Homo sapiens: one gene and its partner. The protein of the gene in region 1 interacts with the protein of each later gene in a pairwise test. Each region holds a gene or a part of one and is shown on either strand. Other genes may lie near its edges.

Region 1 (3,813 bases):
TTTTTTGTAGAGACAAGGTCACGTTATGTTGCCCAGGCTGGTCTCGAACTCCTAGGCTCAAGCGATTCTCCCACCTCAGACTCCCAAAGTGCTGGGATTACAGGCAAGAGCCACTGTGCCTGGCCCCTGCCACTCAAAATAGCATCCTGTCTACCTTCCAGACTTTACTTTTCTCCTTAGCACTTATCACTATAAAATATGCTATATATTTTACATATTTATCTTGTCTGTTGTATATGTTTGCAGTATATACATACTGCTAGCATTTAAGTTCCACAAAGGCAAGAATTTTTGTCTATTTTATTCACAGTTATAGCCCCAGTGGCTAGAACTGTGGCTGGAATATATAGTAGACACTCATATTTGTTTGACTCTACAACAACAAATGAGATTCTCATTTTTTGGGGGCTGTGGTTACTATTGTTTTAAATAACACATTCTTTTTGCTACAAATGTAAATGTTGTCTTTAGTATATTTATGAGCTCTTTAGGAGCTGGACCACTTATACCCCCTATATGTACAGGTAAAGCAAGTCTCAGAAACTTAAAAAAATGCTATCATCACCTGCTTTTGACAGTTTAATAGAGTGTAAACATTAAAGACAATTTAAGAAAATTAAAAATCATCCATAATGTTATAACCATAATACAAATATTGTTTTATTTTTGTTTCCTTTTATTCTGTATTTATGTGCATTTTTACAGTTATAACGTACATGTTTTGTTATTTTCATTTAAAGCATACCTCTTTCCTATATTTCCCTGTACATGACCTTCATAACTATACTTTTAAAGAAATACGTAAATATTCCTCTGTGTGACAATATCTTAGTTTATTTTCCTGTTAGCTATTGAGGATCTAGACTGTCTCTGGAATTTTTATGGATTATACTGGTGTATTTTTGCAAGTGAACATTTTCATCTCTGCTGAATAACTTCCTTGGAATAAATTGCCAGAAGTAGGATTAATGAATGGAGGCTTATGAATTTCCTTAGTGTTTGTGGAAACTGTGGGCATTCTTAAACTACACAGGTTGATGTATTACTTTTCATGAGTTGTGCCAATTTGCAGTACTATGAATGAATGCTGACTTAATTACCTACTCATCATTAGGGGATATTTAAATTTTTTTCTACTTTACGGATGCAAAATAGTCTTGAAAGATTATTTTAATTTGCACGTATTTTATAATTTGCAAAAATGAACATTTTTTTGTGCAGCTACTTGATCTTTATTATGGAGGTAGTTTGGCATAGTGTTAAAGAATAGTCTTTAGAGTCAGATGTAGGTTCAATTTTTCCTTTGGCCGTTTGTCAGATCTGTGACCTTGGTCAATTTACTTAACCTCTTTGAACCTCAGTAGAACAGGGATAGTAGTATTTACTCACTCACTCAGCAGTTAAGTGAGGATTAATGGAGAAAACGTTTTAACCCAGTGCTCAGTAAATAAAAGGTAGCTCTCATTTCTATGCTTGCTAAAAGAAAACTAAAAGGACAACAAAACATACCTTTGTTAGCTTCTTAAAAACTCCCGAGCCTTCCTAATTTCCTCAGATACACCCATGAAAATCTCCCAAAGGAAGCCTTTTTCAATTGATAGAATCATTTACTTTCAGAGTTGGAAAGTATCTTAAGTTAGTTTTATGTGACATGGTTTTAGGTTTCTGTATTTTTTCAGTTGCTGCTTCCTGAATATGACAGTCTTTATTTCTCCACCTTTTAAAGAGGCATTGCTAAATGGAATTCGGCATTCAAAGTGTCTTCTCACTGGCACACTAGCAGAGAACTGTGACCTACCTTGTCCTAAGCTTTCATTAAAGATCCTAAGATGTTAAGCTTTCATTAAAATAGCATGAAGTTACATTCATTTTTATGACTCTCAAATATTTTTCACTTGTATTTAGCTTTCACAATGGTTTTCCCTTCTTTCCCCCTCCTCACCTTGATGTGTTTGATTTTTTTTTTTTTGAGATGGAGTCCTGCTCTGTCACCCAGGCTGGAGTGCAGTGGTGCAATTTTGGCTTACCGCAACCTCCGACTCCCGGGTTCAAGTGATTATCTTGCCTCACCCTCCCGAGTAGCTGGGATTACAGGCACCCGCCACCACACCCAGCTAATTTTTTTGTATTTTTAGGAGAAATGGGGTTTCGCCATGTTGGCCAGGCTGGTCTTGAACTCCTGACCTCAGGTGATCTGCCTACCTCGGCCTCCCAAAGTGCTGGGATTACAGGTGAGAGCTACCGCGCCCAGCCTGAATTTTTTTTTTTTTTTTTTTTTTTAAACCTGGGTGCAGGTCTTTATACTTATTTTTGGTTGGGCACATTACTTCTTCCCTCTGAAACTTTTTGATCTGCACAATTAATTACTATTCCTTCTGTATGTTTTCCTAACAAACTTAAAAAACTGATTGGACAGGACTGAGTATAGAACAGTATGTTTACACCACTATAATCTTTCTATTAATTGACACCCTTTGGTTATTGTATTGGCTCTCATTTTTAACTTACCAGCATCTTTTCACACATTTCCTTCTGGTAGTAGACCTGGCATTCTGACAGTATCCATAACCTGATGCATACTGGGCCAGAGTCCTCTTTTGGGATGTTTCTGCTGGAGCTGGTGTGGGGAAGGGTCTTTCTTTCCTGTCACAGAGGTGTGAAGGTAGACCCTAGAACTGTATTAGCCTTGGTCTCTTACATGGAAAGGGCAGAAACCCTGATTTTGTTTATCATCAAATGCTTTGTAGCATAGTGAACAAAATTTACAAAAATTTCGTGGTCCCTTTCAAAGAAAAGAATGACCTTAGTCTGACATAGTTTTTTGGTGAATTCATATTTTCTCCTAAAAGTTACCACTTCCTTCTAAGTACCCATGCCATACTGCCCATTTAGATAAGTAAGTTGTAACTTTTTTCCTAGGATCAACATCACACTCATCCATGACCTGATGAATATCACCTTCTAATCTGTTTCAATGTAATATGAACTTGAATTATGAAGGAGAAAGATAGGATCTTCCTACATTTTCTTTGGAATTTTATCTGCTAAATTAAGTAAAATTTTACGGGAAATGGTATTTCACTATGTTGACCAGGCTAGTCTCGAATTTCTGGTCTCCAAGCGATCGCCTGCCTTGTTCTCCCAAAAGTATCAGGATTACAGGCATGAGCCACTGTGCTCGACCCTATTAGTTCTTTTGGAAAGATTTTTATGTAACTGTTGTTTAAAATGGCATTTATATTATTTCTACATAAAATTAGGCATCAGGCCCTTGCTTAAAAACATGGCTTTCATCATAACATTCTTTTTAAGAGTAAGTCACTTTTGTTTTAGGCATCTCTGTCAAGAATATAGCCTTCTATAAAGTTAAGGATAAAATTCTTTGGATAACTGCTATTTATGTAATACAGTGGAACTATTATAAATATTAAGATGGTTTGAAGCCTTCTTAGGTAAAATAGGAGTATGCTAAAAGGTGTTTTGTTTTTTTTTTTATTTTTTATTTTTTTGCCACAAGATTGAGAAATGGAAAAGTGTTTTTTTAAACACACCTTTCTTATCAGTTTGCTAGATTAGCAGGCCCGAGTGAATGCAGTTAAGTTAATAAAGTATAAAATTGAAAATAAAGCTCATCAAAGCATAATCAGCTAGTTTGATATCTGTAAATAGATGTAGCCGTCTCACCACTATAATGGTACTATAATAATTGACATAAAAGTGGATTATATGATTTACTCTATGCTTAAATTATTTGGACTTTAATATTTTATTAATACATTTATTGGCATTAAAAAGCACTGTGTAGAATGAGGC
Region 2 (4,592 bases), about 57 Mb from region 1:
GCAGATGGGACCTACGAAACCTGGAGATGTTTATAGCAGCCCCATTCTCTTCTCTCCTGAACAACCTTCTGGGAAGAACAAGGACAGTAAATGCCTTTTTTTTTTTTTTTTTTTTGAGACGGAGTCTCACTCTGTCACCCAGGCTGGAGTGTAATGGCATGATCTCAGCTCACTGCAACCTCTGCCTCCCGGGTTCAAGCGATTCTCCTGCCTCAGCCTCCTGAGTAGCTGGGATTACAGGCGCGTGCCTCCACACCCAGCTAATTTTTGTATTTTTAGTAGAGATGGCGTTTCACTGTGTTGGTCAGGCTGGTCTCAAACTCCTGACCTTGTGATCCGCCCACCTCGGCCTCCCAAAGTGGTGGGATTACAGGCATAAGCCACTGCGCCTGGCCAGCAGTAAATGCCTTTTTGAGGGTTAGAGTAGAACAGACCAGAACTGGGTTTTATTCCCTTGGGTCATAGTGATAACCCCAGCATTCACTTCCCAGGTAGAAAAATCCTCATTCATTCCTAACTGACATAGGACCCAGTCCCTAACTGGGAGGTAGGGACATTTCTGCTGTTCCTGCCCTAGTGTTGCCTTGAAGAGGGAGCTGGCCCTTCACTAGAGCCTATTGCCAGGTATAGGAGTACTATCCCTTCAGGAGTGGGTCAGACCTCCTCCTAAAGTATTCTGTCTGCTGTCTCTGTGGACCACAGCCAAGTGAAGAAGCCATCTGCCAAGAGCAGCTGGGCGGGGACGAAGCTCCAGGGTCCTGCTTGGCCAACCCTCTCTTCTAGGCCCTCAAGATCCCAGCCTAGGCTTGGGGAGAAAATGCAACTGGAAAAGTCAAGGCTCATCCTTTCTCACGAACACAAATTCCTTTTAAGGCAATGTGTCCCGCCTCTCCCAACTATATAAGGGCAGCGTCAGTAAAAGAGCTTCTGCAAAACAAGCCCCACCCAGAGCCTAAGCTGACTGGGCCTCCTGGGCCTCTTGCCAAGGAAGTGCACCTGCCAGACTGGCTTAGGCCAGTCTGAGTGAGCTGGACCTTGGTGCCTGCCTTTCTGCGGTGGAGGAAAGGTTTACTCAGCTCCACAAAGCCTACAGGTGGCTTACGTATAGGGAGAGGAGCATGTATGGAAGGAAGCTTTTGCAGGTTCCAACTCCTCATCCACTAGGAGCAGGCAGGGTGATTCCCTCTGACCAACACTGATCTTGGAAAGATGGAAAGCGACAAGATTAATGAAGAATGTGCAACCACATACTCCAGATAAAGCTGTTCAGTTAAAGCAGCCCCATGTCGCTCCCAAGCCCCACCTTTGTGTAAATCTATGCGAGCACCGATGGGGCATGTCCCAGACCCATTGGCTCCGCCCACCTCACCTCCTCGCCTATCGTTAGTTCTCTGCGAAACCGCGAACTGGGGGCGCGGCCTATCTTCAGCCCCGCCCCTGATGGGCCTATACAAGGGGGCGGTTCCGCGCGCGCCCGCCCAGTTGGAGCCAGACAGCGGGGTGGACAAGTGGCGTGTGTGCTGCGACCCCGAGGGAAGATGAACGGGACGCGGAACTGGTGTACCCTGGTGGACGTGCACCCAGAGGACCAGGCGGCGGTAAGAAAAAGCGCTCTCGCTGTCTTCTCCGTTTTGTATTCCCGGTTTCTAAGTCCGCCCCTTCCGTGCCCCGCGCCGTGTTGGCTGACATCACCTGGTGCCCGGCTCGCGCGGTCAGCCCTGCGCGGCGCTTCTCTCTTTTTATTCTTTTGCCTGCGACGGGCAGTGGGAGTCGCGGGGTGAAGACTCCTTTGAGGCTGGAGGGTTCGGGGCGTCCCTGCCCTTTGGTAGGACACTGCGGCTCCTGCCTGGGACTCGGCGCCGGCGAGCCCGTGCTTGGGCCGCGGGTCTCAGGCGTCTTTTGGGCAGCCACATTGGGTCATAAGAGAATGAGCTCAAGCGACTGGGTCCCTGAGCGCCTTTGGACGTTGTGTCCTGCCGAGGAGGCTTAGGCTTTCCCGTGGGTCGAGGGTCCTGGTGACCTCCGAGGCCCTCCAAAGAATTTCATCATGGTGCTTTGGATGATCAGTAACAAGAAAAATGGTAGAGTAAATTACAGGGCTTGGACTGGAGGGCGGGGGGCAAGTAGGGGACGGTAGGACTCAAACTATTCCGAGATTGGCTAGGGACTCTACCTTTCGCTAAGGGATAGGGCTTTCCGCCCGGGGGTCACCTCTTGTCTTGGATTTCTCCTTCTTCCCCCTTGTAGTTCTCTTGTTTTCCTCCCTCTATCTGCCTGCCGATAGCTTCCTGGGACGGTGTGTTAGTTTTGCTTCCGTCTCCAGCCGCCAGGCCCTGGGATAGTGGAGGAAGGGGATGCAGAACCCGGGCCGAGAAGGGGAGGGAAGTGACCCAAGCGAAGGCTTCTGGACGGGGAGAGGGTTGCGGAGAAAGGGGGCGTTCTCCAGTGCAGGCTGGTCTACCCCTCTCTCCTCTTTCTCTGGCTCCCAGTCCCAGTTCTCCCCACCCTAGCTGACCATATGGTTTTTCCTCTCCAGAGGCTGAGGAGGGTAATTTGTGGCTGAGTGTTTCTAGGCTCTTTTGGGGAACTTAACCCAGATTAGGTGTGTACTATTTCATCAATTTCCAAGCTATTGTGGGTGGGAGTGAAATGAAAACTAAGGTGATGGGGAACTTGTGTATCATCCCCCCTCCCACATCTGACTCCCTTACTCTCTGCCTGCCTCATCCTGCTCTTGAGGTAGAGCTAACCCAACTGCAGCTAGATTATGGCTCTTCTTCAAACTCATTTCAGGTTTAGAATACAGATGGTCATTTAGTTCTTTTCCCAGTCCCCTCTCCATTTCTGCCTGGGCTATGAGTGTTTTTGCCACATTAAAATACAGATGTTGCTATTGGCCAACCCCAGTTGCCCAAACCCCATTCTTCTGTAGCCTGCCACATCCCCAGCTATGAGACTCTGAAGAGATGGAAGAAATCTATCCATTATGTGTCAGCCACAAGTCCTACTCCCTGCTCTTTGTTTTTAAGCGACGAGTGTCTTGCTATGTTGCCGGAGCTGCAGTACAGTGGCTCTTCACGGGTGCAATCATAGCACACCACAGCCTTGAACTCCTGGCCTCAATCCTTCTGCCTCAGCCTCCTGAGTAGCTGGGACTTCAGATGCACACCACCTATAGCTTCTCTTCCATGCTCTTGCTCTCTCTTTTGGAATAGTTGAGGGAAAAGGGTATGAGATAAATAAAGGAGAGGGATGTTTGGGCTGCTTTTTGCTTGCTTGCTATATAGAAAAGAGATCCGGAAAGAAGTCTAAGACCAAGTTGGCACTGGCAGTGTTAATGAATCATTAACCTCTACTATTTTTTTTCTTTCTTCCTTTCTTTTCTTTTCTCTTTTCTTTTCTCTTTTTTTGAGACAGGGCCTTGCTCTGTTGCCCAGGCTGGAGTGCAATGGCATGATCTCAGCTCACTGCAACCTCCACCTCCTGGTTTCAGTAGATCCTCCTACCTCAGTCTCCCCAAGTAGCTGAGACTGTAGGCACATGCCACCACACCTGACTAAAATTTTTTTTTTTTTTTTCTGTTGGTAGAGATGGGATTTCACCATGTTGCCCAGGCTAGTCTCGAACTCCTGGGCTCAAGCAGTCTGCCCACCTTGGCCTCCCAAAGGCTTGGGATTACAGGCATGAGCCACTACATCTGGCCCCTTTTACTCTTTCTTGATGTTTTTGCTCTTTGTCTGGTGGGGCAGAAAAAATTACTAAGAGAAAATAATGGACAAGGAATTCAGATGGTCTCCATCATAGGTTAGTTTGAAGCTAACCAGAGACCTCTAGAGCAAGGGAGAGACAGAAATTCCCTTTTATTCCTTTTTTCTAGGCTGAACTTGAGACTTATTTTACTCCAGAGCTGGGAATGAAGTAATCATTGCCCAGATCTGATCTTGGAGACATTCCTGGGCCCTTAAGGGAGGGGAGGAGATGGTGAACAGTCGGGACACAGGCCTTGTCCTGGATTCCTCTTCTCTGAGCCAACTTGCAGACAGAATTTATGGCTCTGGACAACCCCCAGGAATCTGTCATATATTCACACCACTGAATGGGTGCTCAATTCATGTGCAAAGTGAGTCAATAAATAAATGAACAGATGTTTCTTCCGGAGTCAGAATGTAGACAGTTGAACTGATTAGAGATCCTACTGGGAGTGAGGGCCCTGGGACTCTGTTGGTGTTTCCCCACTAGCCAGGCAGTGTGCCTTAGCGTATCACATGTGGACATGGACATAGGGCCAATACACTCTCTGGGATGTTTTTATTGTTGGAGGCAGATGCAGCAGGTACAAGGAGCCAGTGTTTTTCAGAACTGCAGACCATAACCAGTAGTGGGTCTGAGATCAACTTAGTAGGTCAGACCAGTATTAAAAAAGAAATAGAATTAACACTCTTAGAGTGTTAGTGAGGATAGACATTTTTGGTAGAACTTTTATTTCAGTTATATATATATGTGTGTGTGTGTGTGTGTGTGTGTGTGTGTGTATTATATATGTACGTGTTTGTTTACTGGGTCTTGATGTGAAATATGTTTTTGAGATTGAA

The links.
Region 2: the proteins of ABCD3 (region 1) and TUFT1 interact in a two-hybrid assay, tested with the Homo sapiens proteins (one large-scale study listed by BioGRID and IntAct).

What each region holds. Positions count from the first base shown.
Region 1 is NC_000001.11:94,424,592-94,428,404, forward strand, and holds part of ABCD3 (ATP-binding cassette sub-family D member 3), read left to right. Parts: intron 1-3,510; exon of another isoform or gene 3,511-3,813. UniProt on the Homo sapiens protein: Broad substrate specificity ATP-dependent transporter of the ATP-binding cassette (ABC) family that catalyzes the transport of long-chain fatty acids (LCFA)-CoA, dicarboxylic acids-CoA, long-branched-chain fatty acids-CoA and bile acids from the cytosol to the peroxisome lumen for beta-oxydation.
Region 2 is NC_000001.11:151,538,829-151,543,420, forward strand, and holds the start of TUFT1 (tuftelin), read left to right. Parts: upstream 1-1,480; 5' UTR 1,481-1,538; coding exon 1,539-1,598; exon of another isoform or gene 1,599-2,078; coding exon of another isoform or gene 2,079-2,081; intron 2,082-4,592. UniProt on the Homo sapiens protein: Involved in the structural organization of the epidermis. Involved in the mineralization and structural organization of enamel.